Homo sapiens: one gene and its partners. The protein of the gene in region 2 purifies or fractionates together with the protein of the main gene of each other region. This does not show direct contact. Each region holds a gene or a part of one and is shown on either strand. Other genes may lie near its edges. The genes, in order: GDPD5, MAOA, PACC1 and MIEF1.

Region 1 (7,321 bases), on a different chromosome or scaffold from region 2:
AGGCAAAACCCTACCTACCAGGAATCACCCATCTAACCTTGAATTCTCGGCCTGCCCTTGGCAGTCCTGGTCTGAGAGATGGACTCAGCTGCTACCACTGCCAGCCACCAGCAGGACCCTATCTGCTGTCTTCCCAGGTTGGCTAGGGTCCCAGAGGGGGAGAAGCAGGAGAAGGGTCTTCAGTCAGAACTACATATGTCTTCACTGGAGGGACCTGGGCCCTAGAGCACAGACATCCTTGCAGGCCCACGGTGGCCCGAAATGGTTGCTAACTGGCCTTGGGCCACACAGTGAGACGGAGGTGCCAGGACCCAGGCCTTTAGGCCCAGCCCAGGGCTCTCTGCACGGGCCCAAAGTCACCCCTTTTGGAGCATGCATTAAGCACAGAGAGGAAGAACAGTGTGAAGAGTTAGGATGATGCACCCCCTATCCTGCCATGGTCAAGAGGCTCTGGCCATTGACAGTTGAACCCCCAAGCTCCAAGGTGAAAATCAACACCTGGTCACCCAGTTCTCTGCTTCACTCACTGCAGGCACTGACAGGGCACATCTGGACAGAGGAGGGGCTCAGTCTGCCTCTGCAGAGTCCCCAGCAAGAGGAAGAAGGCTCCAATTGCAGCAGAGTGGACTTCAATTAGTCTCAAGAAAGAACTTCCTGCAGAGGCATTAAGCATGAACAGCATACAGAGAAGGGGGGCATGATGAGGGCAACTGTAGCATCTCCTCTGAAATACAGGATGCTGTCTCATTCATTATGTCATTTTACTTTCAAACCAGCCTGGAAGGTAAGTGTTGCTGCTCTAATTTTATAGGTGAGCAACTGAGGCTCAGAGAGGCTAAGTGACTTGCCCATGTCTTCTAAGTTCCACTCAAGAGAGGCAGAGCCAGGATTCCAAGCCAGAATTCTGACTCCGAGGCCCACATACCTCCCTTCTCAGGAAGTCTCTGAGGATCCAGGTGTTACCACACCTGCCATGGGCATCTCACTGTGTCACCTCAGATGCCTAGGTGTGAGCTGGTGGAGATGCCAGGGGCATTCCTTTCAGGAAGGAGAGGGAGTGCTCGCTGGCAGCCAGCTGTAAAGGGCTCTGTGTCCTAGACCTGCCGGCTGTGCCCCTGCAGACAACACCCCGTGGGGGCCTCCCACATGGTTTCCATGCAAAGTGTCATATCTTCTGTCCTCTCCCTGACCATGCCTCCTCTTGGGCAAGGCTCAGTCTCTGGCACCATTATGCCTCCTGCTCCCTGCCTGGCAAGAACCACACCCCCCACCTAACTCCACACCCAGACTCCCCATCACAAGGCCTGGCAGCATTTGGTGGCACTTGCTGCACGGCCTGTCCCAGGCCTGCCCAGCCCCACGCTCCTCTTACCTGACATTCATAGGCTCCTGGGAGACCCTCTGAACTCAGAGTGGCATGGCTCTTAACACCCTGGACATGAGGAACATGTTCTGGGTCCAGGGCTATCCCCAGAACTGTGGCAATGACTGCCCAGCTCTAAGGAAGGTGTGTGAAGTGGCCACATCATGGCCAGCTCTGGGATGGGCAAGTCGCAGCAGGGCTGGGGCCGCTGCTCTGTGCACCTGAACTCGCCTGACACTAGCCTACCTGTGACTTCTGCTCCACTCCAGAGGTTCCCCTGTCCCTGGCAGGGTCACCCCAGAAGCCATCTATAGCTTACTTTGGTGGAGGAGGCAGAGAGGGAGAGATGGGTACCTCCAAAACTCCTCTCGCCGAGGTGTCTGTGGCAGCTCGGCTGCTGATTCATCTTTGGGGTAAGGGCTGAGAGCCCCTTCATTAAGGGGTATGGTAAAAACAGATGATCTTTAAACTGTGTCCTAAGGACAGTGTATTCAGTGGACTCCCGGGCTTTTGATGGACAGAGTGAGGAAGTGTCTTTGGTTTGCTTCTCCAGAGCCACTCTCTACCTTGTTTGGGGCCCTGGGAACTGACCTCTGTGGAATGTAATGGGCTCCATGCTGCTGGCTTTCAGAGAGGTACACCCAACAGGAAGCATAAATGGGGGACTGAAGGAAAGAGGAAAGATAGTTGAAGTTTATCCCCTGTGAGGTCTCCTGGGTTGACTGGGTCCCTGTACTGATGGCCCACAGCCCCTATCCCTATAGCTGCCCACTTCCCTTGCTCCTTCAGCCCTGAGTGGTAACTGCTCCCAGCCACTGCTAGTCCCTCGGTGCTGCACTATCCCGTGTTGATTTGTCACACGCCTAATGCCTGAGCCAGTCACTCTGGGTTGATGTACCCTCTCTGGCTGTGCCCAGGCAAGGAGACCAAGCACTGCCACTGATGGCCCCTTTTGTAGTCTTCCTCTGTCCAGTCCTCAGAGCCTCCTCTGGTCTTAAAGAAGAGCAGTTTGAAGGGATGCCCATGATTACATGTGCAGGCCTCCTCTGTCCTCTGTCTCAGCCTGGGCCTGGTGGGGCAAGGGGAGCAGACTGGGAGACAGGGAGCGTGGACCAGCCAGTGAAGGAAGGGGCAGGAGGCAGGGGTCAGCTCCCCAGCAAGTGCATGCACCAACAGCTCTTGAGTGCTTAGTTTACGGTAGGCACTGTGCTCCACATACCAGTAATTTTATTTGCTTCTCAGGTAATCCCAGGAAGTCCTTCCTACAAATGCATTTTATAGGAGAAACAACTCGTGCTCAAAGAGATAAAATGATTCTTCCAGGGTCATCCTGCCAGTAAGTGACAAAGCCAGGATCAACATAAGTTTTCTGTCTTCTGTATGGTAGACACGTTGGACAGTGATACCTGGACTTGAGCAAGCCCTGAGAATGACCTTGTATGGCAGGCGCACCTCAATGCAGTTTGGTTCTAAGCTAAGGAATCTGGGAGTAGCCAACCCGGAGATCCACTCCTTATCTATGAGGAACATCTGAGCTCTTGGCCCATCCTATGGAACTTGCGGGCCAAACAGAGGATTGAGGTCTGTGGTTTGGGGTAAATGGAGGTTGCTAGGTGGAAGTTGTTGGGGGAGGTGCTAAGTGAAAATGCTATAGAAATTGCAAGCTTTTAGGCTGGGGGGCGGTAGCTCACAGCTATAATCCCAGCACTTTGGGAGGCTGAGGCAGGCGGATCACCTGAAGTCAGGAGTTTGAGACCAGCCTAACCAACATAGCGAAACTCCATCTCTACTAAAAATACAAAATTAGCTGCGTGTGGTGGCACTTGCCTGTAATCCCAGCTACTTGGGAGGCTGAGGCAGGAGAATCGCTTGAACCTGGGAGGCGGAGGCTGCAGTGAGTGAAGATCGCGCCATTGCACTCCAGCCTGGGCAATAAGAACGAAACTCTGTCTCAAAAAAAAAAACCAAAACCAAAACCAAAAACAAAAAAACTGCACACTTCCTGCGAGTGGTTGTGGTTCTTCGGTCCAGCCAGCAGCCACTGGACTCTCTCCCCTGTGTGTGAGCCCGTAGTAAAACCCCATGGCTCATTCGCTGGCTCTGGGTCTCCTCTTTGGCCTCTTGAGCCTGGTGCCATCCTCACTGGCACTGATAGGGGTTTAGCTCAACACCTAGTAACTACCTTGAAATAATTTTAGTGAACTGGCTCACAATCACAGCAGAGTTGGATGACTTAAGTGGGGTCAATTATCGGTGAGGATTTGCACAGAGGCCTCCAATGTTCCCTGGACACCCTCCCCTAGATTAAAAAAAAAAATCCTCTGACATTCTTCAGTTCTCCCAGGTGGGACAGGGGCCCCAAGCAGGTGGTGCAGTTGGGTGTCCGGGTTGGAAAAACAAGCAGATTCAGACAAGGCTTCATTGTTAAGGAGAGTCTGACACTTTGACCATTAAAGCAAAACTGAGCAAAACAAAATGCTTACTGCCTTGTCTTATCTCTTAGAGAGAAAGGGGACAGTGGGAAGGGCCCCCGGGCTGGGTGTTGATCCCACCCTAACCAGCGCCAGTCTCAGAGACCTGGCCTCAGGTGGCTGGGGCAGGGAGTTCAGGGTCTCAGTCCAGCCCGGCGTCAGGTATGGGGTGGGTGCTTGCCATGTGTGGCCTCGTCTGGCCTCTGTGGCCCTTTCAGAGAGATCGTTATTGTCATTTTTCAGATGAGGAAACTGAGGCTCCGAGAAGACACGCAGGGAGCAGCTGCATGCTGGAACCCAGGTTAACTGGATTACCAAGTCTTCCCACTCCCCTCATCTCTCCAGGCAGGAAGGTCCTGGGGGGAGGAAGCAGCCTCGGAAGGAATGAGCTCCTTGTCCTGGGGATGTGCAAGTATTGTCTTGGGACACTGTGGGAGGTAGGCTGCAGAGGGCAGCCAGGTGGCTCTCAAACTGAAATCACCAGGGGAGCTTCATCAACTACTGATGCCTGGGTCATGCCCCAGAGATTGTGGGGCCTGCAGGACTTTTAAAAGTTTCCCAGATGATTCTAATGTGAAACAAAGTTTGAAAGCCATGGGCTTGGATGCCCACTGCTGCCCTTCCCACCTCTGAAACTCTCCTGCCACACGCCTTTCTAAGGAAAGAAGGGATTTATTACCCTGACCCCATTTTACAAAATGGGCAGAAGCCAAGCAAAATATAAGGGTGTCCTCAAGGCCCCACAGCCAGCAACAAATCGAGGCAGCATGAGGGGTCCCCTGATTTCAGACTGCCCCTGGGGTGAGCTTCTTTAAGACACTTGGGGGTTCCAGCTCCCTTGTCAGTGGGAGAGAAGTTTCTCTTTGAGCCTCCTGGGTGAGAGAGTGAGACATTCTTCGTGGCATTTTTTTTAAAGAGTCCACTCGTTCAAAAGCTAAACAGCTGCAGGATTAACGCTGGAAGACCCCCTCTGCTTGCTGGTGTGCCTTGGGAGCAAGAAGATAAAAGAACTCAAAGCAGGCCTGTTTATCCTTTTCTGCAGGAGATTTGGTCACAAGCCTGGGAAGAGCTGAGCCTGTCAGACCAGCAGCCCACACTTCCTCCCCACCTGCCTTTCCGCCTTCCTCATGCCCTGAAAGCAGAATGTCACAGATGGAGAGATGGTGTGGGTTGGTGGGAAGTGAGAGGCCTGTGGAGTCCACTGGTCCTGGGGTCTGCCCAAGCTCTCCTCCTTGCCAGCTACCTTTGGAGAGGAGCTACTCCTCTCTCAGCTCATTCAGTGCTGATCTCACAGAGGTCCAAAGTCAGCAACATGGGCACCACCTCCAGGAAGGCTTCCCTGACTCCCCTCCCCACCCAGCGCCGGGCAACCCCAGGCCCCTGGCCTTCCCTGTCACATTCTGTGTTGTCACTGCTTCTGTGTCCTCCCAACCCTACCAGGCTGTTCATTCATTCATTCCACGGAGCAGCTGCCCTTTGCCTGGGATTCATTCCAAACGCCTTTCCTGAGCACCTGTTTTCTCTAAGATCCTCTGTGAGGTGCTGGAGATACAGATCATAACAGCTAACCTGCACTGAGTGCTCATTATGTGCTGGGCATTTTTTTGAGTGCTTTACACGTATAATTCATTTCACCCTCACAACTCTATGATGAAGATGCTGTAATTATCCCCATTTTACATATGGGGAAACTAAAGCCCAAAGAGGTTAAATCACTTGCCCAAGTCATTTAGCCCTACCCTGTGCCACCAGCCACAGATACTGATGGGACCGGCCCCTGCCTCAGGAGCCTGCTTCTCACAATTTGGAAGTTTTGCATCTGTGTGTTTCCTTGTCTAATGCTGTTTCCCCCACAGACCAGAATCTCCAACCATGTTACATTTCGGTTGGATGTGTGTGTGAGCAGCACCAAATAAATGCTGCTTCCCTTTAAGGAAGAACTCACACTCTCTGCCCAGCATCTGCTAGCTGGACGCCAGACGGCTTCTCCCACCTGGGTCATTTCTTCTGCGTAGGCCTGAGAAGAAAACCCAAGTCCCCAGATATCCCAGTCCTGCTCCCTCCCCTGAACCTAGCTCGGGACCCTTCCAGGCCAACAGCACCTGCTTACACACCACTGTTCACAGGGAAGGTGGTGGGAACTGTGAATCTGCAAACCCCAGCTAAGTCCCCCTAAGGGAAGGCCTCCCTGCCATCTGGCACGCCCTCCCTCCAGCCATCACTCACTGGACTCTTCCATCAGCTTCTTACTGAGTTGCTCGTTCACGAAGCCATCGAGGGGATGGGCAAGAAGACTCATGCTGATGGAGTACCCACCTGTGTGCCAGGCCTGGACAGGCACCCCACTTCCTTCATCTCATTTAATAACAGTTATTATCAGCCCCAATGTACAGGGAAAAAACAGAGGTGCAAAAGTTGAGCAAGTTGTCCATGGGGCAGCTTGCACTGCCTCCCCTGGCCCGGAGGGTGTGGCTCTGTGCCAGGCACACTGCTAGGCACTCAGAGGGAGGGGAGGATTCGGTGGGGGCACATAGAATCTAGTTTTGACAAGCCAGCAAGGGAAGCAGACCAAGCAGAACCCCAATCCACAGACCACAGTCAGTGTGCAGAGGGCCATGAATCAGCAGCAGAGGAGGCTTGGATCCCACCTGCATGGGAGGAGTACTGGAAGCTTATAGCAGGCAGCATCTTTGGACCTGGTTGAACTCCTTACTGCTCTTTCCCATGGTCACAGCAGGAGAAAGGGTAAGCCTTGGCCTACAAAGCTCTGGTGCCCAGTGTGTGTTTGCCACCACCCCAAAGGGGGCAAAGGGAGGAGAAGCTGGCTGCCCTGCCAGTGACCCCGCTGTGGCCCGGCCAGCCTGCCTCCAGTCCCGCCAACTTGGCCTGGCCTGGCCCAGCCAGTTCCCAATCACAGGGTCTCCTCTGCCAGCTAATGACCATGCTGCCTGCAGCTCAGGCCACCACCCTCCTTTGGGCGAGGCAGCTACCCACACAGCCTGCTGGCCCAGACAGTGGCCAGGCCAAAAATCACAGCTGCCCGTCATACCACATCCTCTGGCCCTGGTGCTGTGGTCTCCTCCTCCTCCCTCCAGGGTCACGAAAGACGATGTAGAAAGCTGGAGCTACAGGGGAGCTCAGAACCCACCCTGCTCCCCATAGACATGGACACACGGGACCCCAGAGAGGGGCCGACTCACCCCAGGTCACACAGACAACCAGCCAGCCTGTGCACGGCCTAGGGCCCAGGTCCTTCCTGGGCCCCATGCTCAGTCCAACACTGCCCTTCCTTAGCCTTGAGAAAAAACCTTGTCCAGGCTTTTTACACACAAAGTATGCTTTCAAGGTACTTGGGTGGAGGTGAGGAGACAGGACATCTTCTAAGCACAGATTTACAATTCAAACAGATGCAGCTTGGCTCCCTGCTCCCTACCTTTGAGCTGTGTGACCTCGGGCAAGATCAGGTACCTCTCTGAGCCCCAGTTTC
Region 2 (7,321 bases):
AACATGGTTTTTGGCATATAGTAGGAAATCAAATGTTGAATGAATGAATGTTGTGCTAAATGATTATTCTGGTAATGACTGTTGCCTTCTGCCAAATACTTTATCAAAGCTGGAAAAACAAATATAAACATGTGTCTGTAGTGGAGGCCACGGTGGGCCCCCCAGGCTCCCTTTGGGACCAGGCACTCGTTACTCTTACCTCACAGCTGAAACCTTCCCCAGTAATTGGACGGGGCAGCAGAGAATGCCTCGCTCAAGGTCCCACCCCTCCCTAGAGTTGTTCTGACCTAGATGCGGTTGAAGACAACTCTGAAGGGCCACCCAGCTCCAGAACTTCCAAGGGAATGGCAGAGGCCTTTGTTGGGACAACATTGGAGCTCAAGTTCCGCATAATCCTTCTGCCATAGGTAGTCATCCCCAGAGCACTTCCCAATAAAGTTCCAGCACCCAGATCTCCAGCTCTGAGTCAGCTTCCCTGGAAACTGACCTAATATAGTCCCCAAATAAAGTAACTCAATAAAACTCAGTTATAACCTGCCTGCTCCCCTTTAATCAAATATATTCTATTTATTATACTGATATTACTAACTGCATGTATATTTAAAAGAATTGAATTGTGACATGAAGTCCTTAGTTATACTATTATTAGAAAGCTTTCAAAAATCCAAATGAGCTAAAGGACAATGAAATTATTTTTCCATTAAAAAATTTTTAAATTTGTATTTCTTTTATTCAAGACCAAAAGGACAGGTAGATCAGTGCAAAAAACAGATATTTCCTCCTCTCCCTACCCACAAATTAAAGTGTTCCTCAAATTGGATTGGCAGTTCCTTTAGGGCTGTTATTTGAGATCACTTTGAGAAGCAAAGATGTATGTTAATGTAGAGAATAGTATTTCAGAGAAAGCTGTGGACTATTTAGGAAATCTGAACTATTGAACTTTATGGGATATAGTCATAATTTTGCATGATTTAACACCTCAAGTTATAGCTTGTTATTAATTATTTTAGTTAGATTCTGGGTTTATGCAAGAATCAGTAAGTTTAGATGTATATAGTTTTTTTTAATCATCAATATCTGATAAAAGATTAAATGATTTATCTGAAAACATTTTTAGTCAACTTGTCTTGTATACTTTTTACAGTTCCCTTCCCAAAGGGCAGTTAGTGTTGGTTATTTCTGTCAAATCTCAAGTCATGAATGAAATAATCTCTTTGATCTAATCCCAACTATGGATAAATAAGCTTTAACTTACTTTGGTGTTTTATTGAGGAAATTAAACATGCTGGCTTTGTGTTGGAAACATTTCACAGTTCTAAAGTACAAGGTCCTTTCTAGTTTCCAAAAGTTTATTACAAACACAGTGCTGGGCAATTACCACCCCTATCTTCAAGGTTTTCGTGGCTGTGGCCATCAGCAAAGAGCAGGGTGGAGGCAAGTGTCAAGATGAAAGAGATTAGAATATCACTTTCTAAGAATTGCCTAAATAACTCCATTAACACCTGGAAGGTTATTTGAGCCCTAACCTAGTTAATAATAAAGCTGAAGAAAGCCCAAAAGCATTGTACACATAAAAACTTGCACCCACAACCAATGCTCAATAAATGGTAGCTTTAATTTTTAAGACTACATCGCCAAGTTAAGAAACAGATTATTTTGGTATTCCCCAGTTTCCAAGGAAACTCTCATCTTCTGTACTTGGTCCTCTATAACCAATTATTATTATTTTATATTTGTTTTAGCCCCACTGTCCACAGAACACAACCGTTTAACATTTTCCTTTTATACTATTTATCTTAAGTAAAATCATTAAAATATTGAGTTCCACTTCCAAAAAAAAAAAAAAAAAAAGAAAGCCCAAAAACAGCAGAAGACATCACTATATCTAACTCCCAGGGCAAGAAAAATATCAATTGCTCTTCCATTCATAGTTGGATTTGTCTTAACCGACATTCTCCTGAAACCTGTACCTGAACCTCCTGCTTTTCTCTGGCATATAGAAGATGATGTCAAACTACCCAAACAACCTATATCCTCTTCTGCCCAATAGGGTTAGAGATGAAGAGGATGTGTTATTCCAACAGTCATTATGTTGTAAGCACCTGCCTTTCTCAGGGAGGCTGGTGTTCTTATATGTTACAATGAGAGAAGTGGTTATAAAATGTCTCATTAGTAACCAGCAGCACAACCTGCTTTCTAACTTCCCTGGGATGTGGGTCTGCTCCTTTTGCCTTTGTAATTTTCCTTCAATGACATGATGTGCATGAGTTCACCTTTCCCTCTGAGCAAGAGCTATGCATTTCCTAGGGGTAAAGGGGAGACCACTGGTCTCTAAAAGTCACTTGATTGCTACTGAAGCTATGTTCTTTTGTTACAGTGTGGTAGAATAAATCGCCTTTTATTTGTATAGTTTTTGAGGAGGCCAAAAGGCAGGCAAGAGGGAGGCTGTGGAACTCCTTAGCAATTCATTTGTGGGGACACCACTTCCTTCTCTGGACTCCCCAGCCCCCAACGAGTAGGACAGCTATGTGCCGGAATGAGAAGAGAGGGGAAAAGCTCTCATTTTCCCTACACAGAACCAGGCCCTGGGTCATCCGCACACTTTAGAGGTTAAGTGAAGCACCACTGGTGAAGGATAACTAGAGTGACCCACCAGAAAAACTGCCATGCCATCCAATCAAGGCCTGGCTCAATTCTGAACTGGGCCTCCTAATTGGTCAGCTGTCTTATATCTCAGGGTAACAACTAACATTTGCTATGTAGCAGATATCTGGAATGGAGAAAAGGATAAAACCGAGAAACCCCACATTTAGAATGTTTTTATAGAATAAAGCGGTTAGTTCTCATTTCAGAATGGCTGTGGACATTCTGCCTGTAGGCAGGGGTGGCTACCATACTGCCTGTCTAGCTGCTTTTTTTCACTCCATCCTCAACACGTAAGCTTTGTATGAGAGAAAGACATACATGGGTACAAGTTCAAAATGGTGTCAATTTTAGTAAAGTTTCCCAGTATTCTTGTGCTACATACGAAACATTACTGCAATATTTTAACACATGGAAACATTATATATTTTGATAGCATTATTCATCATTGCTTGAACTTAATTCCAAAGTAATATACTTTGACAGCATCCACACCAATACATCAACACAATTTGGAAAATGCAGAACACCCTGCTCTAACCTACCCCATGATGGCAGGCAGTGACCCATCTGGCTTGGTGTCATCCAAGGTTATTGAAATTGGAGCATCTTCATCTTCAATGATCATGCAGCCACAGTAATCTTAACCAGGAGAAAAATCAATGGGAGATCGAGATCAAGCTCATCAGAGACACCCATACACACATAAATATATATAAACTATTTTTTAAGAGGAAGTAAAAACTTAAACTCTTGGTCTTGGCCCCAACCCTACATGTCTTGTTAAATACACACACTGAATATATAAGGATGTCTATTCACCCACAGACAGAAAATGACCCATCTCCATCACCTTTACATAAAGGGCTTATGACCAGCCAATGCATGACAAAAATGGTAAGATAACCCTGGCTCCTAGCATACATGAGGAAAGAGAAGGGCTGCATTGGAGGGAATGACCCAATCCAGGGAAGAGGTGGGAGGAGGGAATCCGATGAGTATAACCAGAATGCTTATCAACAGTAGCCACCATATCTGGGCAGCTTTCTAAGTCCAAGATCCTGCCTCATTTAATTCTCACAACACCGTAGTGGTAGGTATTACTGTCACCACTTTACAGCTACAGACTGATGCTAGCAAGCAAGCGAAGTCCCGGAATGTGTAACTTCAACGCAGTGCTCTTTCCATGGTGCCTGTTGACCTCACTCTGCTCATAAAAAGTAAGAAGCAGGACAGATGCCAGGAGTCAGGGCAATGGTGGCCTTATGACTGATGTGATCTCCTTCTTCCCTCCCATTGCCAACAAGTGCTCTTGGGGTCATTATGTGTGGCCAAGGATATGAGGAAATTGACAGACCAAGATTTCTAATCCTTTTTCTACCAGTTTGAAAATACTTTGTTTCTGTTCAATACCTTCTGTTCAATAATCCTAAAAGACTGTGATTTCTTCATATAATACAGTTTAAACATGAATAATAGCAGCCTACCCTTCTTCTTCCAGAAGGCCTCCTTGTAATACATCATGCACTTAATGACAGCTCCCATTGGAAGCCGCTGAATTAACTGGTTTCTCTCTGCTGGAAGCTCTGGTCTGAAGTGAATCTTGGCAGTCAAGGTCGGAGGGATCGCATTAATTACGTATTTGCACTAAAACACACACAAGCAAAATATTACCTCAAATGTGAGCTGCAGTCTTTGTGGCAGGCGTGAAAAATCATCTTTATCACTTCTAAACAACATTGAGCAGTAAAAACATACAAAATGAGAAAATGAGGCAACTGTGAGGCAACAAAACAGATCAAGGTAGGTCAACCAAGGCTGGTAATTTGGAAGACTGAGGCGGAAACATGTCAGCATTAATTATGCTACTGCTTGAATTATATCTGGTTAGAAACTGCAAAAGACACAAGGCCTATTTACTATATGCTCCTTTTGACTAAACTGAGTTACCTCATAATGTTCATGGTTCAGCGTCTCTATGATGATGTTGTCACTTGACTGGTCAACGTGAGTGACAGGATGGTTCAGCTTCACTTGGTCTCCGAGGAGGTCCATTATCCGTTCGCTCACTTGACCAGATCCACCTACAAACTTCCGTTCCTACAGGAGGAGGTAGGTAAGAAAGGAAACATTATGAAAGCCCAAGGAAGGAAAATCCTACTGGCTACTGATTAGAAAACCTCCAGAAAGTCACAGGCCACACCTCTAACGTCTGCACACTTAACTGTCAGAAGACTTCATTAGGACAGAGGCAGAGTTGACCAAGACAATTCAATGATCATTCCCTGCACAGCTTCTGGCAAAGAAAAGCCATTACAAGTTTATAAAAATCACAGAACCCGAAGAAATGTTCCACTATGCCAATGCTGCCCTGACCAAGGGGAATATCAGCAAGTCTGTGGGCTTCAAATGTCAAAGAGTGCAGGGTGTGGAGGGAGCCCTGAGAAGGGGCAGGCACAGGGCTTATTCCAGAGGATGAAGTTTCTAATTTCCTTTGATTCCTGTGTTCTGGGCTGAGGTTGTCCAGGCAGGTAAGGATGCAGATAGAGCCATATTATAGACAAAGTTACAGGGTGCTTTTAGGGATAGTCACGTCCTACTAGTCCTACTAGTCACCACCAAATGATGTTCTAAGAATGGGAAGAAGGGCCGGGTGCTGTGGCTGTACTAAAATTACAAAAATTAGCCAGGCGTGGTGGCACGTGCCTGTAATCCCAGCTATTCGGGAGGCTGAGGCAGGAGAACCACTTGAACCCAGGAGGCGGAGGTTGCAGTGAGCCGAGATTGCACCACTGCACTCCAGCGTGGGCAACAGAGCTAGACTCCGTCTCAAAAAAAAAAAAAAAAAAAAAAGATTCGGAATATCAGATCTTGAGTAACTTTTTGCAAAACTATCTGGAAGCTTCAAGGCAGAGGCAGAGGGTGAAGGCTAAGCATCTGCTTGCTCCTTTAGATATTGTTAAATAGTTCTCTTGAGCGGCCCTTATAAGACCAGAAGTGCTCTACCCTCTGCCTTCTGCTACGATCACCATGGAAATGTTTCCAGCTTAATCTAAGAAGGTAAGTCCTTAACACAATGCTTTTGGTAAGAACCAGAAGGATATTTTTAGCCTATTATAGAAGATTCTTTTTTTTTTTTTTTTTTTGAGACGGAGTTTCACTCTTATTGCCCAAGCTGGCATGCAATGGCGCAATCTTGGCTCACTGTAACTTCCGCCTCCTGGGTTCAAGTGATTCTCTTGCCTTGGCCTCCCGAGTAGCTGGGATTACAGGTGCGTGCCATGACACCTGGCTAATTTTTGTATTTTTAGCAGAAATGGGGTTTCATCATGTTAGCCAGGCTGGTCTCAAACTCCTGTCCTCAGGTGATCCACCCTCCTTGGCCTCCAAAAGTGCTGGGATTACAGGTGTGAGCCACCGCGCCCAGCCAGAAGATTCCTAACAGATTCCTCAATCATACTCCTCCAGAAAACTGCATAAGCAGCCACGCAGTGATTTTTGCACTTTTGTAACTGGCTACTGTTTTAATAACAACACCAAAGTTCTTTATAAAAAATATTCCTGGCTAGGCATGGTGGCTCATGCCTGTGATCTTAGCACTTTGAGAGGCTGAGGCGGAAGGACTGCTTGAGCCCAGGAGTTGGAGACCAGGCTAGGCAACAAAGCAAGACTCTGTCTCAAAAATTAAATTAAAAAAAGGAAAAAAAATTCCCAGAGTGGTTCAGACCTAAATTCATGATTTGTCTTTCCTCAAGAAACCCAGACCATTTAACTTATAATCTGGTCTGTTTTCTAAGAGGTACTTTGAGTTTTAGTGTGGTGGAAAGACCACGAACTGTTTCTGTCTTGTTCACTGTCCACCCCTCCAGGTCTAGTATTTGTTGAATTAAATTACAGGATAAGCCTAAGTTCTTTATAAAAATATTGTGACCATGGTTTGAGATTAATCATCTGAACCATATTTTCCAAAAGGTCATGTAGAATTTGGCTAGAAGTATCCTGGCTCCTCTGAATGAAGGAAACAAATATCAAATGTAAATCAAAATACCTCAGAAAGTAAAATACTGGCTAAAAGGAGTAATCTGTCATCTCTGCCTGTAGGTAAAGACATTTAAAAAATGCAACTGTCCTGCATTTGTCAAGGCTAAGGGTCAAATGGGCAATGAGTCTTGGTGTCACAAGAACTTGGGGATTTCCGGTGATCTCCTCAGGAGAAGAATAATTCACTTGGCAGAGAAAGACTCTATACCTTGTACTGTGCACTCAGAATTCAGGAACTCAGAGAACCTAAGTTAGAAGTAAACTGCTACTAATTAAACCTCATACCATCCAAGCACAACATTTATAGAACAGAGATACCCATTCTCTTTGGATAACAGAAAGGGTTGAAGCAGAGAATCTCAGAGTCTGGGGAATTAGGATTCTGGCTTCGCCATGTGTCCAGCCAATGAACGAAATGAATTCACTTATTAATAAAGGAAATGATATGGAAACTGGGCAAATTCAAGTGGGTAGCAAAAACTAAGAATCCAAAAGGCAGAATTTACTATTGCAAGAGTGGCCATAATCACTTGCGTGAATTAGAAGGAAGAACAGTCACTTCCCTTCTGTAGCAGTTAACATAAAAGAATCACTCTGATAAACAGATGGGACAGAAACCTTGTGTCTAGAACAGAGA
Region 3 (7,321 bases), on a different chromosome or scaffold from region 2:
CCCTGAGCATTACTCAGCAAAGGCTGGAGGCCTCACTGTCCTCCCTGAATGCAAGTGAGCCAACCACAGCCAAGTGTCCACATGGCACAGCCGCATGTCTCCTTGGGGACTAAGGCCCCACACTGAGTGAGTGGAAGAAGGACTCCTAGGAAAAAGGAAACTTGGGGCCTTGGGTTGCGGGGCTAACAGAGCAGCTGCCCAGACCCAGCTCAGGCAGACAGGAATTACCACAGTCTGATTGGAGAAGGGGTCCGTGTAGTTGATCCTCTGGGTGGTGCAATTCATGTCACCCGGCTGGCCAGGGCTTGTCAGAGGAGGAATGACCTCGTAATGGTGCTTACAGCTGAGCAACTGGGCCTGACCGGGGTACAAGGCAATACCTGGGGGCACAAACAGGAAAAGCAAGTGTCAGAAATCACACTCCTGACCACATCCCTGAAATCATCTCACACCTACCAACAACCTACGTTCTGGACTCCCTGGAGGACTGCAGGGAAGGGAGAAGAAAAGGGTTTCAGAGGGTGAGGAGCCACATCCCCTGGCCTCAGAAAGCCCCGCTGTAGCAGAGGGCACAAGCCCCTCCTCAGTAAGCCCCTGGCCAACCTGGGATCCAGCCGCCCTGATGCCCACATCAAAACCCACTCCACCTCAGAGCCCCGCTCCACACCCTCCGAAGGAGTGTCTCTTGACTCAGCCCCTGTGCCACCCCTCTGGGCCAACACCCACCTGCAGAATCACTGGGAGGCTCTAAACTGTGGAACTCCTCAGAACTCATTTTGTCTCTTAGACTGGGAGCCCCAAGTGTGCAAGTCACATCCCAAGAGTCCCTCCCTCTTCCCAGCCCAGGCACCTCTACTGACAGTAGCTGTCCAGCCTCAAGGGCAGCAATGCTAAGACAGCAGCACATGGCATCAGAGACAGACAGACTTCAGAGACACTAAGACACCAGACAGAGAAAGTAAAACGTACAGATAAAGAAGACTCAAGCAGACACACAGAGAAGAGGGACAAACACAAGACAGGAAGAGATGGGCAGAGGAGCCATGACCAGCACACCTGACTCTGCTGGAGGCTGGCAGGAAGCCCCAGAGAGAGGGCACCCGGACTCTGGCTCTGCCATGTGAGCAGGCCCTCCCACAGGTTACTCAGGGGCATCTGTGGGCAGAACAGGTGGCACACACTGGGTGGACAGGGCCCAAGTCACACAGCTCATGCCTCCTCATTTACTCTACAGCCCCTAGAACATCCAGTGCCAGCCCTGCAGCCCAGAGCAGATAGCTTGCTCTATAGCAGAGTGGACTCCCCACTCAGGGACCAGACACCCCAGTGAGACAGGTATACCCAGTGTGGCCTGGGAGTCCCTCTCCAGGCAGGGTTGAATGGCCTCGCCTCCCCTGCCATCCTCCCCACCCCACAGTCCAGCCTTGACTCCTGCTTCTCCTCATCCCTGCCCTCTGGCCCCAGCCAAGTTAGTCTCATCCTCTCCAGAGAAGCCCTCTGCCTCCCTAGACACCCCTTCGCTCTGCTGATCCCCATCCCAAAGACACTCTCTTCCCATCTATGTGCTTTTCGAGGCCCATCTCAAATCCTACCTCTCTGCCAAGCTTTCCCTGACCCCTCTAGTAGCCTGCAGTAGCTGCTCCAGGCTCTGTCCATTTCTGTCCTCAGCACGTAACACACTCCCAACAGCAGCTCCTTGGGCATAGACTCTATACCTAGACTATGCTTGGTTGGACTCCTCTGCCCTGCCCGTAGTACCACAAATACAACGGCAGCTCAGGGAGTATCTGCCAGCTGACACCCTAGATCTGGGGCCCTGATGCCTGGCCCAGGGGCAGGCTCTACCTGGGGCATCATAGCGATCCACTTCCTTGTAAGACACAGACATGACAGGGTGCTTGAGTTTCTCACGAAAGTCTGTGATGGTCCGGTAGACCAGGAAGACGGCCACAGCCATGAGCAGCAGGTAGATGAAGATGAGTAGGACCGAGAAGACGTTCTTCAGGCAGGCCTTGCTGAAGCGGATGCTGCTGGAGGCGGACTCGCTGTCCAGGCCTGACAACAACAAAACACCATGTGACCCAGGGCACAGGGACAAGGTACAGACAGAGATGGCCAGCAACCTCCAGGCCCTTGCCTGCCTCACCAAGGAGGTGAAGTCACCTGCACGCCCAACCTTTCCACCTCACCCCACAAATCATAACAAAGGGCACCTGTAAACATTTACTACACAGCTTCTCTGCCAGGTAGAGGACACCAAGCTGAAGGAGACTTATTCATTGTCTTTAAGGAGTTTACTCTCAAAAGAAAAAAGATAAAAGATAAAAAACGATAAAAATGTTAAAAGAAAAAGCAAAAAACAAACAAAAAGAACAGAAAAAAGGAGTTTACTCTCTAGAGGGATAGGCAGTTACAATCCAACAAGTGAGCTGGCCCCAACCTACCTCTCTGGCCTTATCCCTCACTGCTCCACTTCCCCAGTTCTCCCAGCTCTAGCTCCACCTCTACTCATCGACTTTCTGTTCTTCTGGAGTGCCCTTCTCAACCCGGGATTCCCTCACACTTACCATTCCCTCTGCTTGATTTTCTTTTCTTCCACAGCTGATGCTTCACTCATCCTAAGCCCCGAAAGCTTTTTGCTTGGCATCTGGCTTCCAACAGTGACAGAGTAGCTTGGTCACGCCATCCTTCCATGGAAGCATTTTAATTTAGAAAGACATTTTCTTGGCCAGGCGCAGTGGCTCAAGCCTGTAATCCCAGCACTTTGGGAGGCCGAGGCAGGAGGATCACCTGAGGTCGGGAGTTCGAGACCAGCCTGACCAACATGGTGAAACCCCTGTCTCTACTAAAAATACAAAATTAGCTGGGCGTGGTGGCGCATGCCTGTAATCCCAGCTACTCAAGAGGCTGAGGCAGGAGAATTGCTTGAACCCAGGAGGCGGAGGTTGCAGTGAGCCGAGATTACTCCATTGCACTCCAGCCTGGGCAACAAGAGCGAAACTCCATCTCAAAAAAAAAAAAAAAAGAAAAAAGAAAGAAAGACATTTTCTTGAGGAAGCCTCTCCTGACCCCTAACCTTTATTTGGGCACCTCTTCCTCAGTGTTCCCAGGGAGCCCTGTACGTCCCCTACTTCATCACTCTGCAATGTCATGTCTATACATCTTTTATCCTCCTAGGCTGTGAGTTCCATGAGGGCAGGGATGGGGCCAGTCTTATCCCTAACTGAATCCTTAGCCCTTCATGCTATGCCTGGAACATTCTGCATTTACATGGTGACTGATTGAACACGTCCTGATGCTATTGGTACAACACAACTCTGTCTCCCCTACCTCCCTCACAAAATCCTGAGGCTAGAAGCTAGATTAATCTCTGTTATGGACGAAACTGTATCCCCCACCCTCAAATTCAGGTTGAAGCCCTAACCCTCAATGTGAGTATATTTAGAGACAGGGACTTCAAGGATATAATTAAGGTTAAATGTGGCCATAAGGATGAGGCCTGATCCAATAGGACCAGAATCCTTATAAGAGGAGGAGACACTAGGAGCACATGCACACAGGAAAAAAGGCCATGTGAGGACACAATGAGAAGGCAGCCATCTGCAAGCCAAGGAGAAAGGCCTCACCAGAATTCAATCCTGCTGGCACCTTGATATTGGATTCTCGCTTCCAGAACTGTGAGAAATAAATTTCTGTTGTTTATGCCACTCAACTGTGGCATTTTGTTACAGCAGTCTGAGCTGACTAAGATACTCCCACAGGGCTCCCTGTGCCCTCTCTGCTCCTCAGCTGAAAATGGAGCTCCCTGAGAAGAAGTCCTATTTCCTCCACAGCCCAGCTGAGCACAAGGCTGAGAACAAGGGAAGCATCTGAACGTAAGCCCCAAAAGGTATCTGCTTGGCATCTGGCTTCCAACAGTGACAGAGTAGCAGTGTCACATCACCCTTCCACAGAAAACAATTATAAACTTTGGACAACATATTTTAAATTATTTGAAGGCACTGGGAGAATGATCAAAAGCAGGTAGAAATTGAAAGAGAGGCTACCCTTGAAAGAGAAGAACTGTACTTGGTGAGATTTATACATCTGTAGCTTTTTGCCTAAGAATACATGCCAATCCCTATAAGGCATGGTTCAGAGTGACAGGGACAAAGTTCAGGGCTGGAAGAGCAGCCAGAAAGTTAAGACAAAACCATGAAAGGGAGGGAGCCACACAGGGGGTGAAACTCCCAAATCTGCAACTAAATATATGTTCAGATCCTTGGCTGGAGAACCCAGGGGGGGCCAGCAAAAAGTAACAACTGGAAATTGAAAGAACTGCATGGAGATTTCAACTACGGCTAATGCAGGGGAGATAGGAGTTTAGAGCTTAAATCTTGCCATATTAACAATATGCCAAGAAAAAAAAATACCCTTCTGAAGATCATAACAGAATCCAGAATCTCTATATCATTCATAATGTCCAGTGTTCAATCAAAAATCACTAGACATGCTAAGAAACAAGAAAATGTGACCTGTACTCAAGAAAAAAGCAATCTATAGAAACCAACACCAAGATGACCCAGTGTTGCAATTTAGCAGAGAGAAAATTTACAGCACTTAAAGGAAAATATCTGAATAAGGAATAAAGACAAGATCAATAGAGAAACAGAAACTAATAACAATGGCCAAATATATAGAATTTCAGTTTTGCAGGATGAAAAAGCATTGTGGAGATGGATGGTGGTGATGGTTGCACAGCAATATGAAAGTGCTTAATATCACTGAACTCTACATTTTAATGAGTAAGATGATGAGTTTTACATTACGTGTATCTAACCACTGTAAAAATGTTTCATAAAATTTAAAAAAACAGATGGAAATTCCAGATCTGACAAGAAATAAATGAAATAAAAAGTTCACTGTATAGGCTTAATAGCAAAAGATGGCAGAGAAAGAGTTTGTGAACTCAAAGTTAAATCAACAGAAACTATCCAATTTGAAGAAAATATTGAAGGAAAAAAAAAACCAAATGGAGCCCGGAAAATTGTTACAGTATCTAGCAGTGTAGTGACATGTAACTGGAGACAGAAAATGGGTCACAAAAAATATCTGAGGCCGGGGGTGTGGTGGTTCACCCCTGTAATCCCAGCACTTTGGGAGGCTGAGGCAGGCGGATCACAAGGTCAAGAGATCGAAACCATCCTGGCCAATGTGGTGAAACCCCGTCTCTACTAAAAATACAAAAATGAGCTGGGCGTGGTGGTGCATGCCTATAATCCCAGCTACTCAGGAGGCTGAGGCAGGAGAATCGCTTGAACCCGGGAGGCGGAGGTTGCAGTGAGTTGAGATCACGCCATTGCACTCCAGCCTAGGAAACAAGAGCAAAACTCCATCTCAAAAAGAAAAAAAAAAAAAAAAAAGACTATTGATATTGGGTTCTAAGATGGCTGAATAGGAACAGCTCCAGTCTACAGCTCCCAGCGAGAGAGATGCAGAAGATGGGTGATTTCTGCATTTCCAACTGAGGTACTGGGTTCGTATCACTGGGGCTTGTCATACAGTGGGTGCAGGACAGTGGGTGCAGCGCACCGAGTGTGAGCTGAAGCAGGGTGAGGCATCGCCTCACCCGGGAAGCAGAAAGGGTCAGGGAATTCCCTTTCATAGCCAAGCAAAGCTGTGACAGATGGCACCTGGAAAATCGGGCCACTCCCACCCTAATACCGTGCTTTTCCAATGGTCTTAGCAAATGGCACACCAGGAGATTATATCCCGCGCCTGGCTCAGAGGGTCCCACACCCACGGAGCCTCGCTCATTGCTAGCACAGCAGTCTGAGATCCAACTGCAAGGCGGCAGTGAGGCTGGGGGAGGGGCACCTGCCATGGCTGAGGCTTGAGTAGGTAAACAAAGCGGCCGGGAAGCTCGAACTGGGTGGAGCCCACCGCAGCTCAAGGAGGCCTGCCTGCCTCTGTAGGCTCCACCTCTGGGGGCAGGGCATAGCCGAACAAAAGGCAGCAGAAACCTCTGTAGATTTAAATGTCCCTGTCTGACAGCTTTGAAGAGAGTAGTGGTTCTCCTAGCACAGGGTTTGAGATCTGAGAACAGACAGACTGCCTCCTCAAGTGGGTCCCTGAACCCTGAGTAGCCTATCTGGGAGGCACCCCCAAGTAGGGGCAGACTGACATCTCACACGGCCAGGTACCCTTCTGAGACAAAACCTCCAGAGGAACGATCAGACAGCAACATTGGCTGTTCATCAATATTCGCTGTTCTGCAGCCTCCGCTGCTGATACCCAGGCAAACAGGGTCTGGAGTGCACCTCCAGCAAACTCCAACAGACCTGCAGCTGAGAGTCCTGACTGTTAGAAGGAAAACTAACAAACAGAAAGGACATCCACACCAAAACCCCATCTGTACATCACTATCATCAAAGACCAAAGGTAAATAAAACCACAAAGATGGGGAAAAAAACAGAACAGAAAAACTGAAAATTCTAAAAATCAGAGTGCCTCTCCTCCTCCAAAGGAACGCAGCTCCTCACCAGCAACGGAACAAAGCTGGACAGAGAATGACTTTGATGTGTTGAGAGAAGAAGTCTTCAGACGATCAAACTTCTCCAAGCTAAAGGAGGAAGTTCAAACCCAACGCAAAGAAGTTAAAAACCTTGAAAAAAGATTAGACGAATGGCTAACTAGAATAACCAATGCAGAGAAGTCCTTAAAGGACCTGATGGAGCTGAAACCCATGGCATGAGAACTACATGATGAATGCACAAGCTTCAGTAGCCGATTCAACCAACTGGAAGAAAGGGTATCAGTGATGGAAGATCAAATGAATGAAATGAAGCGAGAAGAGAAGTTTAGAGAAAAAAAGAATTTAAAAAAACGAACAAAGCCTCCAAGAAATATGGGACTATGTGAAAAGACCAAATCTACGTCTGATTGGTGTACCTGAAAGTGACGGGGAGAATGGAACCAAGTTGGAAAACACTCTGCAGGATATTATCCAGGAGAACTTCCCCAACCAAGCAAGGCAGGCCAACATTCAAATTCAGGAAATACAGAGAATGCCACAAAGATACTCCTCGAGAAGAGCAACTCTCAGACACATAATTGTCAGATTCACCAAAGTTGAAATGAAGGAAAAAATGTTAAGGGCAACCAGAGAGAAAGGTCGGGTTACCCACAAAGGGAAGCCCATCAGACTAACAGCTGATCTCTCAGCAGAAACTCTACAAGCCAGAAGAGTGGGGGCCAATATTCAACATTCTTAAAGAAAAGAATTTTCAACCCAGAATTTCATATCCAGCCAAACTAAGCTTCATAAGTGAAGGAGAAATAA
Region 4 (7,133 bases), on a different chromosome or scaffold from region 2:
GAATAAAGAATAACAGGCCAGGCTCACGCCTGTAATCCCAGCATTTTGGGAGGCCGAGGTGGGTGGATCACCTGAGGTCAGGAATTCGAGACCAGCCTGACCGGCATGGCAAAACCCCGTCTCTACTAAAAATACAAAAAAATTAGCCAGGAGTGGTGGCACACACCTGTAATCCCAGCTACTCGGAAGGCTGAGGCAGGAGAATCGCTTGAACCCAGGAGGCAGAGCTTGCAGTGAGTCGAGATCGCACCACTGCACTCCAGCCTGGGCGACAGAGTGAGACTCCGTCTCAAAAAAAAAAAAGAATAACAAGCATGGATCTCCAAATGCTGCTGAGGTACACAGGATTCGGAAGCTGTAAGACCTCAGTCTTTCTGGCAAGCCTGGGACACTGATCTGTGCCAACAACACTATGGTGCTCAGCACTCAAACCCCACCCACCATGAGAACCACCTTGTTACCTGCAGGTCATCGTAGAGGCTGCCACTCAAGTACATGTCCCGAAGCGGCATGTCAGGCAACTTGGCCCGCAGGAAGCTCCGGAGCTCGGCACATATGTCCACAGCAGCTTGCTTGGCCCGAGCCTGCTCTCCAGCAGGGATGGCTGCCCGGTTCCGGTAGTAAGTAAGAAGTTTCTCCTGCAGGGACATGCGGAGTCGTGACTTCTTCAAGTCTACCTGGCCCTTCCTGGCCACTGGCTTGGGCCGGGGCGGGCAGAATGTATCTGCCAAGGCAAGAGAGAGAGGCACGTGAGCTCTGCCCATGCCTGCTCAGTCCACAGCTGCCTCAGCCCCAGAAAGAAGGGCCTGGCATGGAGGGCAAGTGCTGGCACAGTGCCTGGCACAGATGTGCTCAGGAAACATCTGCTGAGTGCAGGAGTGGTACTGAAAGTCCAGAGAGGTCCCAGGAGGGGCAGCAGCCCTTCTCACCTGTGTCGAAGGTGGAGGAGTCTGTGGGAAGGGTCTGCAAGGACCGGCTCAGGCCCGTCTTCATGTCCCTGTTCAGCAGTCGTGGGGAGCCCATCCAGTTGGGTTCTTCCCAGCTCCTTTTCCCCGAATGGCTCAGGCGGGTGGGGCTGGTAGGGGCACTGATCGCCCGATCGTACATCTGAAATAGCAGAGAGGACACAGGACATAAACCTGCCCTCTTTCCCTATTTCCTTCCAATTTACTTCCTCCCCAGAAGCTCTGTCCTAGTAAGTTCTTTTAGTAATTTTGTTTTTATTTTAGATTATAGAATACTTTGCTCCACGCAGAAAATCTCAGGGAAGACTACATGATATAAGACATAGATAATCCACGTCATGACCCAGAGAAAACTGTTTGTAATATCTGGTATGTTTCTTTCTAGATGCATGTAATGACGATCACTCTATACATACTTTTGAAACCTGTTTTTTTCACTTATCATTGCGATCATTTCCTCCTAGAACGCTTCGACATTTTCTTTCTATAAAACATTACATCTTATGACCATACCACTACATTCCACCCCCAGCCCTGGCTGCATGCACTTACCCGCTTAACTGCCAGCGTGGCGATGCCCAGCATGGCCGCTCCACCCACCCCCAGCACCAGCCGGGCATTGGAGAGCACAAAGTCAATGGCCGTGCCAATGCCATTGTCATCCTTCTTGCCTTTGCGCTCACCAGCGCCTGCCATTGCTCATCTGAGAATGAAGACAGAACACGGCCATAAGTACTGGGACCCCAAGAACCTCCCTCCCCTAACAAGCCAAACCCCAACAAGTACAGGGTACTCTGTGAGTTCCAGCAACCCAAATCTTCTTGCCTCCAGCACTGCATGCTTTAGGGTCTGGAGGGAGCTACAATGTCCCATGATAGATCAGGATGCAAGGAGGAGGGGCTGATCTTGGGTATTGTAGGAAAACTTTCCCCAAGCTAGTGAGATTAAGAAAGCATTAAGCTCAGTGTCAGTCCTTTTTTGTATTACAATGAAGTACCCCACCATGCAAAACAGCCCTCTCTCTGCCCCTTTACAATGTTAAAATGCAGGTCTCTACCCCTTCACAATGTTATAATGCAGGTCTCTACCCCTTCACAGGGGTTATAATGCAGGTCTCTACCCCTTCACAGGGGTTATAAAGCAGGTCTCTACCCCTTCACAGGGGTTATAATGCAGGTCTCTACCCCTTCACAGGGGTTATAATGCAGGTCTCTCTACCCCTTCACAGAGGTTATAAAGCAGGTCTCTCTACCCCATCACAGGGGTTATAATGCAGGTCATTTCTTCGTCCTTTGGCCACTACTTTGTGGAAGGTTAGATCTGAGCGGGACCTTGGAGCTCATCTAATGCCATCACATCACCTCACACAGAGGTTCTCAACATAGGGAGGTGATGTGTCAGGTCTCAGAGAAAAGAAATGGTACAGGCGCAGTGGCTCATGCCTATAATCCTAGCTACCCGGGAGGCTGAGGTGGGAAGATCGCTTGTGGCCAGAAGTTCAAGACCAACCTGAGCAACATGGCAAGACCCCCATCTCCAAAAGTAAAAGATAAAAATAAATTGAGCATGGTGGCACATGCCTGTAGTCCTATCTACTTAGGAGGCTGAGGCAGGAGGAATGCTTGAGCCCAGGAGTTTGAGGCTACAGTGAGCTATGATCACGCCACTGCACTCTAGCCTCAGTGACAGAGTGAGACCCCATCTCTTAAAAATAAAAATAAAAAAACAAAATGGGCCGGGCACGGTGACTCACGCCTGTAATCCCAGCACTTTGGGAGGCCGAGGCAGGCGGATCACCTGAGATCAGGAGTTCAAGACAAGCCTGGCCAACATGGAGAAACCCCGTCACTACTAAAAATATAAAATTAGCCAGATGTGACAGCGCATGCCTGTAATCCCAGCTTCTCAGGAGGCTGAGACAGGAGAATCCCTTGAACCCGGAAGGCGGAGGTTGCAGTGAGCCGAGATCACACGATTGCACTCTAGCCTGGGTAACAAGAGCTAAACTCCGTCTCAAAAACGAAAACAAAACGACACAGTCATCTCCAGAACTCAGGACTCCCCACTCCTTGTATGACGCTTTTTCTACTGTACCATGCTCACCCTTACCCAAATCAAATCGGCCCTTATTCTATCTACTTTCTGCAAACAAAACACAAAACAACATGTACCAAACATCCTGCACACGGAACTGAAACTACACGTCCATATGTGAGAAAGGTCCCTCCATGGACCCTCCTACTTGACAAATGCTTTGTTTCTTGAGAGAAGTGCGCAGCGGGGACTATAAAAGCTTAGGTGAGACTGGTATACCGGGAGATAAAAAACACAAAGGACACTGCAGACTCGACTGCTAACTGGAAAACAAAACACCCATCTGCTCGATTACACCTGGAAGAGGAACTAAAAATGTGTTCACCTGAAAGAAGTACTTGGGCACCACAGCGAAGAGGCTGGCCTCCAGTGCAGTGCTCAGGCCAGTGCTGCTCCCGACTACAGTGGAGTCTTCCTGACTGCAGCAGCAGCAGTCCCCAGATAAGCCCATTCCTGTGGAGTTAGAACCCTGGGCCTGAGCCGGATAAAGGATGACAGTGTGATTCAGATCGGAATACCACTCAGCATGCTGCCACTCTCCTCTATAATATCCCGTGTCCTTCACACCAGGAATGACATAAGGGAAAACAAAGTCGGATACCATTTAGCGTCCCAGAATGGGAGGACATCAAGAGACAGGATCAGCCGGGCGCGGTGGCTCACACCTGTAATCCCAGCACTTTGGGAGGCCAAGGTGGGTGGATCACGAGGTCGGAAGTTCAAGACCAGCCTGGCCAACATAGTGAAACCCCATCTCTACTAAAAATACAAAAAATTAGCCAGGCATGATGGTGCATGCCTGTAATCCCAGCTACTCGGGAGGCCAAGGCAGGAGAATCACCATTGCACTCCAGCCTGGGTGACAGAGCAAGACTCCGTCTTGAAGAAAAAAAAAAAAGGATCACTGAGGATTATCTTCCATGTAAAATAACATTCCTTCTAATACCGTGTTACAAGTGGATATTTCTAGCTTCCACATCTTACGCTCCTGCCTCTACCTCCCTGAAAAACAAAGAAATATTTCTGACTCTATTATTCCAGTAATTGAGTTAACTAAGAGTCACTGTCAAGCCCAAAAATATTTTTTTCCCTAACTAGAGTTCACACCTTGGGGGTACTTTCCTTTTCTCTACCATTTACAGTCAATAGAGGCTTCAGGTTTAGGGACATGAAAGACTATTTCGCCAAACCGAGTACATTCCCACCTCAAATGCACAGAGCAAAGCCAGGGAGAAGAGATAACGTTTGTATTTACAGGTGGAATCAGGGAAGAACAGCAGACACCCTCTCTCCAGTGGCCACTGAGATAGAGACGGGACAAACCAAACTTAGCAGAGGCAAGATAACCCAATCAGGAGAAAAGCAGAACACTATACATTTCCCCACACATAACAATGTCTCTTGTTTTAACTCTTTACTGAAATATTTACAATAGGGAGAGCCACTGGACACATGTGCCCTCTAAATGATCCTTGAGTGTGATGCAGCAGGGCCAGAAGGGCACCTCCTCACTCAGGGCAGAAGCAGCCTCCCTGGACCATTTTAGTCCTTGGTGCCCTTCTGATGACTGGTGAGAGCAAGGTGGTGCTACAGATGACAGAACAGAGCGTGGGTTTTAGAGTCAGAAATCCTGAGATACAGAACTTGCCTTGAGCCCTGACTTATTAGCTGGGTGACCTCAAATGAGTTACTTAACACCTCAGCTACGAAAAGGGGATAATGGTCCCCGCGTGGGACCAAATCACAGGGTTGTAGTGAGGAAAAACCATTCACTGCAATCCTGTATGTGAACGGTATAAACTGTATTGCAGTGGATGGTCTATAAACTGTAAAAGTGCTCCACAAATGAGTTCTCCTCTAGTCTTTTAAGATTTCCATCCACAGGACAAAGGTCAGCTTCCAGAAGTCAGTCAGCAACCCAGACTGTCCTCTGAGTGACAGTGCACCTTTTGAGACTGCTCTAAAACGGCCTTGAAAATTCGCAGTGATGCCATCTTGGACTTGAGATCAAAACTATTTTTTCTTTTTTTTTGAGACTGAGTATCACTCTGTCACCCAGGCTGGAGTATAGTGGGGCAATCCCGGCTCACTGCAACCTCCACCTCCCAGGTTCAAGTGATTCTCCTGCTTCAGCCTCCCTAGTAGCTGGGATTACAGGCATGAGCCACCACACCCTGCTAATTTTTTGTATTTTCAGTAGAGACAGGGTTTCACCATGTTGGCCAGGCTGGTCTCGAACTCCTGACTTCAGGTGATCTGCCCACCCTGGCCTCTCAAAGTGCTGGGATTACAGGCGTGAGCCAACAGCTGAGATCAAAACTATTAAGTTGGGCCAGCTTGTTAAGCCTTTTCGGCCGGGTACGGTGGCTCACGCCTGTAATCCCAACACTTTGGGAGGCCAAGGTGGGCAGATCACGAGGTCAGGAGATCGAGACCATCCTGGCTAACACGGTGAACCTCTGTCTCTACTAAAAACACAAAAAATTAGCCAGGTGTGGTGGCAGGCGCCTGTAGTCCCAGCTACTCGGGAGGCCGAGGCAGGAGAATCGCTTGAAGTCGGGAGGCAGAGGTTGCAGTGAGCCAAGATTGCACCCACTGCACTCCAGCCTGGGTGACAGAGCAAGACTCCATCTCAAGAAAAAAAGGCTTTTCCTACTGTAGTGCAATAGGCACCCCCCGCCCACCATCCAAGGACGGACTGACATCACAGACCTGGTGACCTGGAACAGAAGACGGCATCCACAAGCTCAACAGACAGACACGGACCTTACTTGAAAAGTTAATTCAACTTGTTCCAGTTTAAACTGCTTCTCCATGACACGCTCTCCACTCAGGTTCTGCTGCATAAGCTTACAGCCTACTAGCAGGTAAGAACTCCACCTCCAATCGGGACTGTCATGAAGGAACCCCATTGCTTAATGGGTACAGAGTTTCAGATGTGCCAGATGAAAAGGGTTCTGGGGCTCTGTTACCCAACAATGTGAATATACTTACTACTACTGAACTGTACACTTTAAAATGGTTAAGATGGTTAAAATAAAAAACAAAGAAGGAACACAGACCTGGTGGGCAGAACTAGGGATGGAGAATTTCAGCTCTGCCAATATTTCAGGCAAGTTATTTAACCTGTCTCGCTAGATACAAAAATGGGAACAGAAATGCTCATCACCCTAATATAGTTAAGGATGATGAATAATGGAGGCCTTGCGGCTTCCTAGGATGACAGCACAGAAGTGTGAAAGTTCCAACTTATTTTAATTGAAAAAGCCATAGGCCTTTTTATAAACCTATCTTGCTTGAGTATGTACGAGACTAGGTAGCAGATATTGAGTGTGTATTATGTGCTGGCAATTTTACACTTATTATTAATTCCCTCAATCCTCACAACAACAATCCCATGAGATCAGTAATATTATCCCAAATTTAAAGGATGAAGAAACTGAGTAGTTTCTGTAACTGACCCAAGGTCACTGTGTCAGTAAAGTATGTGACCAAGATTTGAACCCTGAGATCACGCGGTGCGGAGAACTAATCTACAGGGGTCCTAGGTACTTGCTCCACACCTTGTTCCCATCTCCACTCCATTAACCCCCAGACCATATGCTTCTGGGGGACATTTGGGCTCATTCACTGCTGCATCCCCAGGGTGTGCAGTGTTTGATGCATAGGGAGTATATGTTGTGGGAATGAAGTATTAACTCTACGGCGTTTTGTTTCTTGGTTTTTTTGAGGGGGTAGTGATAGCAGCGTGTAGCCCAACTCACAGCCAAAATATATTAGGAACACAAAGATTTCAAGGAACGCCCTAATTCCCTCCTAGATCCGCTAGCCAACCCTCCCTGTGCAGACAGGCTCCCATGGGCATCACCCCACCCCTGGCCCTGTACTGCCAAAGGCAGATATGCCAATCCTAAGTGGCTGAGAAGAACCAAAAGTCATTACATAAGGCTCTCTTCCTACTTTCCCTCCCCCAGTTAAAAGCAGCACCCTCCACCCAGCTGGCAGGCCTTACACCCAGTTACTCTTCATCTTTCTCTCTCCTCCTCCTGCCTCAGCCAACTGATCACCAAGTCC

The links.
Region 1: the proteins of MAOA (region 2) and GDPD5 purify together in Homo sapiens (co-immunoprecipitation; one large-scale study listed by IntAct). This does not show direct contact.
Region 3: the proteins of MAOA (region 2) and PACC1 purify together in Homo sapiens (co-immunoprecipitation; one large-scale study listed by IntAct). This does not show direct contact.
Region 4: the proteins of MAOA (region 2) and MIEF1 purify together in Homo sapiens (affinity purification with mass spectrometry; 2 studies listed by BioGRID and IntAct, with this or other methods). This does not show direct contact.

Annotation. Positions count from the first base shown.
Region 1 is NC_000011.10:75,514,139-75,521,459, forward strand, and holds part of GDPD5 (glycerophosphodiester phosphodiesterase domain-containing protein 5), read right to left. Parts: exon of another isoform or gene 4,877-7,321; intron 4,136-4,876; exon of another isoform or gene 4,078-4,135; intron 3,289-4,077; exon of another isoform or gene 1-3,288. UniProt on the Homo sapiens protein: Glycerophosphodiester phosphodiesterase that promotes neurite formation and drives spinal motor neuron differentiation.
Region 2 is NC_000023.11:43,728,663-43,735,983, reverse strand, and holds part of MAOA (amine oxidase [flavin-containing] A), read right to left. Parts: intron 4,744-7,321; coding exon 4,594-4,743; intron 4,291-4,593; coding exon 4,131-4,290; intron 3,286-4,130; coding exon 3,189-3,285; intron 1-3,188.
Region 3 is NC_000001.11:212,385,046-212,392,366, forward strand, and holds part of PACC1 (proton-activated chloride channel), read right to left. Parts: intron 2,056-7,321; coding exon 1,846-2,055; intron 381-1,845; coding exon 229-380; intron 1-228. UniProt on the Homo sapiens protein: Chloride channel gated by pH that facilitates the entry of chloride ions into cells upon exposure to extracellular acidic pH. Involved in acidosis-induced cell death by mediating chloride influx and subsequent cell swelling.
Region 4 is NC_000022.11:39,505,823-39,512,955, reverse strand, and holds part of MIEF1 (mitochondrial dynamics protein MIEF1), read right to left. Parts: intron 3,535-7,133; exon of another isoform or gene 3,385-3,534; intron 1,669-3,384; 5' UTR 1,662-1,668; coding exon 1,518-1,661; intron 1,108-1,517; coding exon 930-1,107; intron 725-929; coding exon 462-724; intron 1-461. UniProt on the Homo sapiens protein: Mitochondrial outer membrane protein which regulates mitochondrial fission/fusion dynamics.